2 linked regions of the Homo sapiens genome follow. The protein of the gene in region 1 interacts with the protein of each later gene in a biochemical or structural test. Each region holds a gene or a part of one and is shown on either strand. Other genes may lie near its edges.

What was found.
Region 2: the proteins of DENND1A (region 1) and ARF4 form a complex in vitro, tested with the Homo sapiens proteins (one study listed by BioGRID).

Annotation. Positions count from the first base shown.
Region 1 is NC_000009.12:123,923,406-123,927,326, forward strand, and holds part of DENND1A (DENN domain-containing protein 1A), read right to left. Parts: intron 1-3,921. UniProt on the Homo sapiens protein: Guanine nucleotide exchange factor (GEF) regulating clathrin-mediated endocytosis through RAB35 activation. Promotes the exchange of GDP to GTP, converting inactive GDP-bound RAB35 into its active GTP-bound form.
Region 2 is NC_000003.12:57,576,624-57,580,544, reverse strand, and holds part of ARF4 (ADP-ribosylation factor 4), read left to right. Parts: intron 1-3,157; coding exon 3,158-3,229; intron 3,230-3,921.

The sequences.
Region 1 (3,921 bases):
GAGGACAGCACTGTGGCGGAGAAAGGGAAGAGGGGAATAGGCATTAGAGGAAGAAGGCCTGGAAGGAAGTCACATTCCAATTCTTGGTCTCATCACAAAGCAGAGAGATACGTTAGTTGTGCTATACAACAGGCCTCAAGAAAAAGCAAACTTTTTGTGTATTTTGGCAATGGGATCCTTTAAACAAACTGGAGCAGAGCTATCATAAGCCAACACTGCTCCTCTATTCTTGAAATGAGATCGGTTTATCCTCACTTTCAAGTCATATAACTTCCACTTGTCTTCCTTTGGTAATCCCCCTCCATTCTCCAAATCTCCCCTTTCTTTCAGTTCAAGTTCCAACCTCTTCCTAGAAACCTATCTCCGTCTACACTGATCTTTTCTATGTAACTCATTTGGGCCAAATCAAAACCACAATAAAATACCACTTTACACAAAGTGGTACAGCTGCTTTAGGAAACAATTTTAACAGTTTCTCAAAATGTTACATAGAGTTACCAAAAGATCCAGCAATTCCACTCCTAAGTATATACCCAAGCGAAATAAAAACATATGTCCACACAAAATGTTCATAGCAACATCATTCATAATGATGAAAAGGGGAAACAACCCAAATACCTAACAACTGACAAATGGATGAGTAAAATGTGGTATGTCCATACAATGGAATATTATTCAGCAGTAAAAAGTAATGAAACACTCATGCATGCTCCAACATGGATAAATCTTGAAATCATTAAGTGAAAGAAGCCACGCAGGACGGGTTATATATGATTCTATTTATTAATATATGAAATGCCCATAAAAGGCAAATCTATAGCAAGTAGATTAGTGATTGCCTAGGACTGAAGGGTTTGGGGGAATGAGGAGTGTCTAACAGGCATGGGGTTTCTTTCTGGGGTGATGAAAAAGTTCTGGAATTAGTGGTAATCAATCACCCTTGTGAATATACTTAAAACCACTTAAAAAAGTAAATTTTAGGGCTGGGCACAGTGGCTCATGCCTGTAATCCCAGCACTTTGGGAGGCCAAGGCAGTCGGATCATCAGGAGTTTGAGACTAGCCTGGCCAACATGGTGAAACTAAAAATACAAAAACTAGTCAGGCATGGTGGCGGGCACCTGCAGTCCCAGCTACTTGGGAGGCTGAGGCATAAGAATCACCTGAACCCAGGAGGCGGAGGTAGCAGTGAGCCAAGATCACACCACTGCACTCCAGCCTGGGGGACAGAGTGAAACTGTCTCAAAAAAAAAAAAAAAGTAAATATTATAGTATGTGAATCTTATGTTGTAATCTTATAAGATTCACATACTATAAAATTTCGTATCTTAAACAGTTTTCAGATTACCACAACCTACAAGGCCCTGTCCAGGGTCTCTCCCTCTGACCTCACCACAAGCCTCTCTGCCATCAGTCACTACTCAAACCCACTGGCCTTCTGTCCGTTCCTGAAATATGCCTAGGGTTTTCTTGCCTCAAGGCCTGGAATAAAAAGTCTTGCCTAGTCTCTTTAGATGACTAATACCTCCTCATCCTTTAAGTCTCAGCTCAAATGTCATCTCCACAGTGAGGCCTTCCCTCGCCACTCTATCTAAAATAGGACAGTCGCTCCCATCATTTTCTCTGAGGCAACTCATGTGCTTCCTTTATAGAACATCCACATAGCTTTATGTGAATTCACCTGGTTTTTTTAATGTCAGGTCCACAAGACTGTATGCACCGTGAGGAGTGAATCTGTATTATTCACCATCGTAATTCCCAATGTCTAACACAATTCCTGGCATTTAAGTGCCAGGAATAAATGGTAATATTTTTATTTCCCTAATATGCCACGTCCTCATATGTACTGCTCCCTCTGCTGATACCACCACCATCACTACTGCCTCTACTCCCTCTGCTAACCACCCCTACCTATCTCTCAGCTGAAACATGATCCCCTTGGTGAAGGCTTCCTTTCCTGACCCTCCCTCCTCCCCAGAAGACAGTCTCTCCTTCACTTACTCACCTATTCGTCACCAGCGGCATCTCCACCATTGCAATTAACTTATACTGTATTATACTTGTGTTTTGTTTTTTTTGTTGTTTTGTTTTGTTTTGGTGGGGAGGGAGTCTGGAAGGGATTGTTTTTGTTTTACATTTGTGTCCACTACTTTAGAAAGCCTTAAAGAAAAATATTTGTTCATCTTTGTGTCCCCAGTACTTAGCACACTGCCAGGCACAGTATTGCCACTAATTATGATAATAATGGCTAACATTTATTGTTTAATATGTGCTTAATCTTCTTAGTTCTACAGTAGGTAAATGGATGAATAAATGGATAAATTTCTTGGTCACTAACCTCACAGAGGTCACAGTTTGACAGGGACAGAAGACAGGTATACAGGCTAATGTAGAATAATCACCACCACAAGGCCAAATTAGTTGCCCTGCCCTGTTCCTATGCCTCAAGTCTTAGAGTATGCTTTTCTCTGAGTCCATAAATGTCACGTTTCTTCAAACTCACTTAGAAAACTTCCTTCGATTACTTACAGCCCACTTCCTGCACTTGGTGCCTGGAAGCAATTTCTAGGATGTCACCACAAGCAATATTAAACTGCCACATAGTTTCCTGCTGTGTGTCTGCATTATCAGTTAAATTGCTTCATATTAACCACATTCCAGTCCACTGGGATCATTCAAACACTAAATAAGATTTAAAAATACCTGTTGAAGATTGTCAGTTACCACTGCTCCTTTTATTCTTCTAGATAAATGTCCATACAGATGTAACATTTAGGTTTCCAGGGTGCTACCTGCATACTGGTGACCTTCTCTTTTTTTGTCCATTAAATGTTGATTTGAGGCAAGACAATGTTCCTTTATTAAAATAAACATGAGGCTGGGCACGGTGGCTCACATCACACCTGTAATCCCAGCACTTTGGGAGGCCAAGGCAGGCAGATCACCTGAGGCTGGGAGTTCAAGACCAGCCTGACCAACACGGGAGAAACCCGTCTCTACCAAATAAAGAAAATTAGCCAGGCATGGTGTCTCATGCATGTAATCCCAACTACTGGGGAAGCTGAGGCAGGAGAATCGCTTGAACCCGGGGGTTGGAGGTTGCCATGAGCCAAGATCATGCCATTGCACTCCAGCCTGGGCAACAAGAGCAAAACTCCATCTCAAAAAAAAAAAAAAAAAAAAGAACTAAATAATCTAGTAAAAGGCCTGCGTAAACCATATAATTTGCCTTAGAAATTTATAAAATATAAAACTTTTCTTCCTCAAGGGTTTTTTTTTTAACTCGATAAACACTCAACTCGGTCTTAATTAGAATCTTAATATAGATCCTAATGTATTTCTTAAATGCGTTCCATGAACTCTTCTCAAACAACCATGTGCCAGGCATTGAGTCTGACACAGGGAACTCAAAGATAAATAAGACAGTCCTTCCTCTCAAGAAGTTTATGTCCAGCATGGTACGGGACACAGACAAGAAACGAGATTCAGTATTGTGACTGCAATAAACACAAGGGGCCACAGAAACACGGATGAAGGGCACCTGGCCTAGACTGGAACAGGAGGGGGTGGGGGTGGCAACAGGAAACTGGCATCAAGGCAGGCGTCTGGGGGATGGCATCTGATCTTAGGCCTATAAACTCCCATTCTCTCATTTGAAAAATGTGGTTAATAAATAGCATCGCCACCACTGGACAGTAGTGAGGGTTTCATGAAATGGTTCACATTAAGGATTTCCACGGTACCTGACAGAGATTGTGTTCAACCAGGCTTAAACTTAAAAGAGAAGTCTGATCAAACACGAAATCTCAACACCTGTGCCTAGCAACTCACGTGCTTTACCACTGATCACACAACAGACACCAGCTTCACAATTACACACAATATTGTTTTAAATCAACTTTTATTTTTTAATAATGAGACA
Region 2 (3,921 bases), on another chromosome or scaffold:
CTGTAGTCCCAGCTACTTGAGAGGCTGAGGTGGGAGGATCACCTGAGCACAGGAGTTGGAGGCTGAAGTGAGCTACAGTTGCGCCTCTGTACTCCAGCCTGGGGGACAAAAGGAGACCTTGCCTCTTTTTTGAAAAAAAGAAGAAACAAAAAAATGGAAGGTTTGGTTCTAAAAAGGAGTAGCTTTTGAAATATGGAAAGGAGGAGACATATTTGCTAAATAAATGCCCATGATAAGCCAAGAACAATGATCTTTTATATCTCTGTGATTGCATTTAATCTTTAACAAGCTTATGAAGTTAGTATTTTTATTTTATTTAGACGAGGCATAGTCAAGGATTAGATAATATATATAACAAGTAGTATAAGATTTGAATTTGAGTCTGTCTTCCCACCACACTATATTGGCTCCCAAAGCATCAAACATTATTTTTTGTTTTTGAGATGGGGTCTCACTCTGTTACCCAGGCTAGAGTGCAGTGGCATGATCATGGCTCACTGTAGCTTCAGTCAACCTCCTGGGCTCATGTGATCCTCCCTTCTCAGCTTCCTAAGTAGCTAGGACTATAGACATGTGCCACCATGCCCTACTAAAATTTTAATTTTTTTCGTAGAGACAGGGTCTTACTCTGCCCAGGGTGATCTTGAACTCCTGACTTCATGTGATCCTCCCACCCCAGCCTCCCAAAGTGGTGGGATTAGAGGTGCCATGCCAGCCAAAAGTTTTCTCAAAGGATAGGATATTTAAAGTGATGGTTTTCCAGGTGGTATAGATGCAGTGTAAAATAAAATTTAAAAATTAAGTTATGGTTTCCAACAGAGATAAAGGAAATGGACTTACAATTTGCTAAAACAAAGGAAATTGTCATTTAATGGATGTAAAATAAGTGTTAGATGCTCCTGGAGAGCCCAGTACTGTGGTAATCCTGAGAGGTAAACAGAAAATGATGTAGGATGGGGCTGGGCGCGGTGGCTCACACCTGTAATCCCAGCACTTTGGGAGGCCAAAGCAGGCAGATCACCTGAGGTCAGGAGTTCAAGACTAACCTGGCCAACATAGTAAAATCTCATCTCTACTAAAAATACAAAAATTAGCCAGGTGTAATGGTGGGCGCCTGTAATCTCAGCTACTCAGGAGGCTGAGGCAGGAGAATTATTTGAAACTGGGAGGAGGGGTTTGCAGTGAGCTGAGATGGCACCACTGCACTCCAGCCTGGGTGAAAAAAAAGATATAGTATAGTCCTTTGCCCTTAGTGGATGTAATCTAGTTCCTTTTTTTTTTTTTTTTTTTTGAGATGTAGTTTGCTCTTGTCGCCCAGGCTGGAGTGCAATGGCGCCATCTCGGCTCACTGCAGCCTCCGCCTGCCAAGTAGCTGGGATTACAGGTGTGCCACCATGCCCGGCTAATTTTTGTATTTTTAGTAGAGATGGGGTTTCACCAGGCTGATCTCGAACTCCTGATCTCAGGTGATCCACCTGCCTCGGCCTCCCAGAATGCTGGGATTACAGGCGAAAGCCACCTCAACCAGCCTCGTTACTTACATAAATCAGTAGTGCAAGACAATCTGTTATAAGTGACATGATCAAAATTGATACTTTAGGAGTCAAGGTTTATCTTTTTTTCTTTTTTATTATTTTTATTTTTGCCCCCCCCCTTTTCTAGCTGAAAATTCTATACTTTCCCATTTGAAAGTTCTTAGAAAAACAGTTCAACTAGTTGCTTCCTAATTCCTTCCATTTATTTTGTAGTATAGAATTCTAATAATGGGCCAGGTGCCATGGCTCATGCCTGTAATCCCAACACTTTGGGAGGCCAAGATGGGTGGATCACTTGAGTCCAGGAGTTCGAGACCACATGGGCAACGTGGTGAAACCCCATCTCTACAAAAAATAGAAAAATTAGCTAGGTGTGGTGGCACGCACCTGTAGTCCCAGCTACTTGGGAGGCTGAGGCGGGAGGATCATTTGAGCCCAGGGGGTCAAGGCTGCAGTGAGCCAAGATTGTGCTACTGTGCTCCTAGGCAACAGAGTTGAGACCCTGTCTGAGAAAAGAAGCTAATATTTGTATCTCTAAGAATTGATAACTACCTTCCTTTTTTTAAAGAATGTCTTACTCGATCAGGTAAATCTTGAATTTTTCTTTCTTTTTTTTTTTAAGAGATAGGGTTTTGACATATTGTCCTGGCTGGTCTCAAACTGCTGGGCTCCAGTGATCCTCCTGCCTTGGCTTCCCATAGTGCTGGGATTACAGGAGTGAGCCACTGCGCCCAGTCTTGGATTTTTCTTGCTATCATTTTCTTAAGATGTCTTCCTGATCTAGAGTTGGCAGGCAGCATTCTGAAGCAAGTTAATTTTTTCCTTCCATGATGAAGCAGATAAAAACTGTAGTGTACACACTCGCGCTATCCCACCCCCCTTTTATTACTCTGTACATGCCTTTGAGTCAGTAAGCTAATTCAGTTAGTAAATTCATGGGGTTTTTTTGTTTGTTTTTTGAGATAGGGTCTCGCTCTGCCACCCAGGCTGCAGTGCAGTGGTGCGATTTCAGCTCCCTGCAACCTCCGTCTCGGGCTCGTGATTCCTCCCACCTCATCTCCCAAGTAGCTGGGACTAAAGGCATGCACCACCACACCTGGCTAATTTTTGTATTTTTTTGTAGAGATGACCTTTCGCCATGTTGCCCAGGCTGGTCTCAAACTCCTGAGTTCAAGCAATTTCAGGCCTGATCGTTTGCCTCAGCCTCCCAAAGTGCTGGGATTACAGGATGAGCCACCATGCCTGGCCAAATTCACGATTCTTTAGGATCCTTGATTTGTTATTTTTCTTTTTGTTCCTACTTTGTGGCTATTTTGGTACCTGCACTTAAATGTGAGAGTGCAGAGGGAAGGGGAAAAATAGATACAATTTATTCTTAGGGTAGTTGAGAAAAGTAATTAATTGGTGAAGAATAAAAATTTTTTAGATTTGAAATAGCACTAATAAATTAAACTTACAAATAGTTCTCAAATCAGCTTTTAGCATTACAGCCTTAAGTTCTTACTTTTAAAGAGACATTTTCTTCCTAATGTCTAACCATTGGTACCATTTTGCTGCCTACACTGTTTCATATAGAGAGTGTCGTTTAACTGTTAAAATTTACTGAAACAATTTTTCCCCAGGGTCTTATTTTTGTGGTAGATAGCAACGATCGTGAAAGAATTCAGGAAGTAGCAGATGAGCTGCAGAAAATGGTAAGAAATATACTTTAAATTCATCATTTTCAAGGTGTGCTTTTCTGGATTAAACTGGTGGTGGTTTAGTACATTTTGACTATGATTAGATTACACAAATGGATTGGGGGGGCTAGAAATAAACTTAAGAAACTATATTATCCACAGGTTCTTAATAATGTACTTCAAAATCTCTTATAGAGCGTTTTAAAAAACACATGGAAGAGTAGCTACTTCAGTAAGTTGGGAGGAAGGCAGAGCAGTGTTGTTTTTTTTTTTTTTAGAATGCCTCATGGGTAATCTTGATGCCTATCTCTGGCTGAGGATATCTGATTTAGCTCAGTCCCTTACTTTACAGATATCAAATCTATAGTGCTGTAGTGGTTTTGACCCTAGGAATCTTGGTTCAGATGTTTTGTTCCCAAGGTCATCGGTTCCATTTTCTCTATGCTGTGCCAATAATTACTTCAGAAATGTTTTTTAATAGTAACCATTTAAGGATAAGGAATTCCTTCTGAAAGTAGAGACAAATGTTTGGTTCACAGTGGCATTTTGCAGCCTTCCCATAGATTGGATTAATGTTTTCATGTGTTCATGTTGTTAAATGTACTAAATGGAGGAAGACTGCTGAGAATCCTTGTCATGATTTTAAACTTGTAGCCATAAAATATTTACTGAAATGAAATCTTAATTCTTGTTCATTCCTCCTAAGA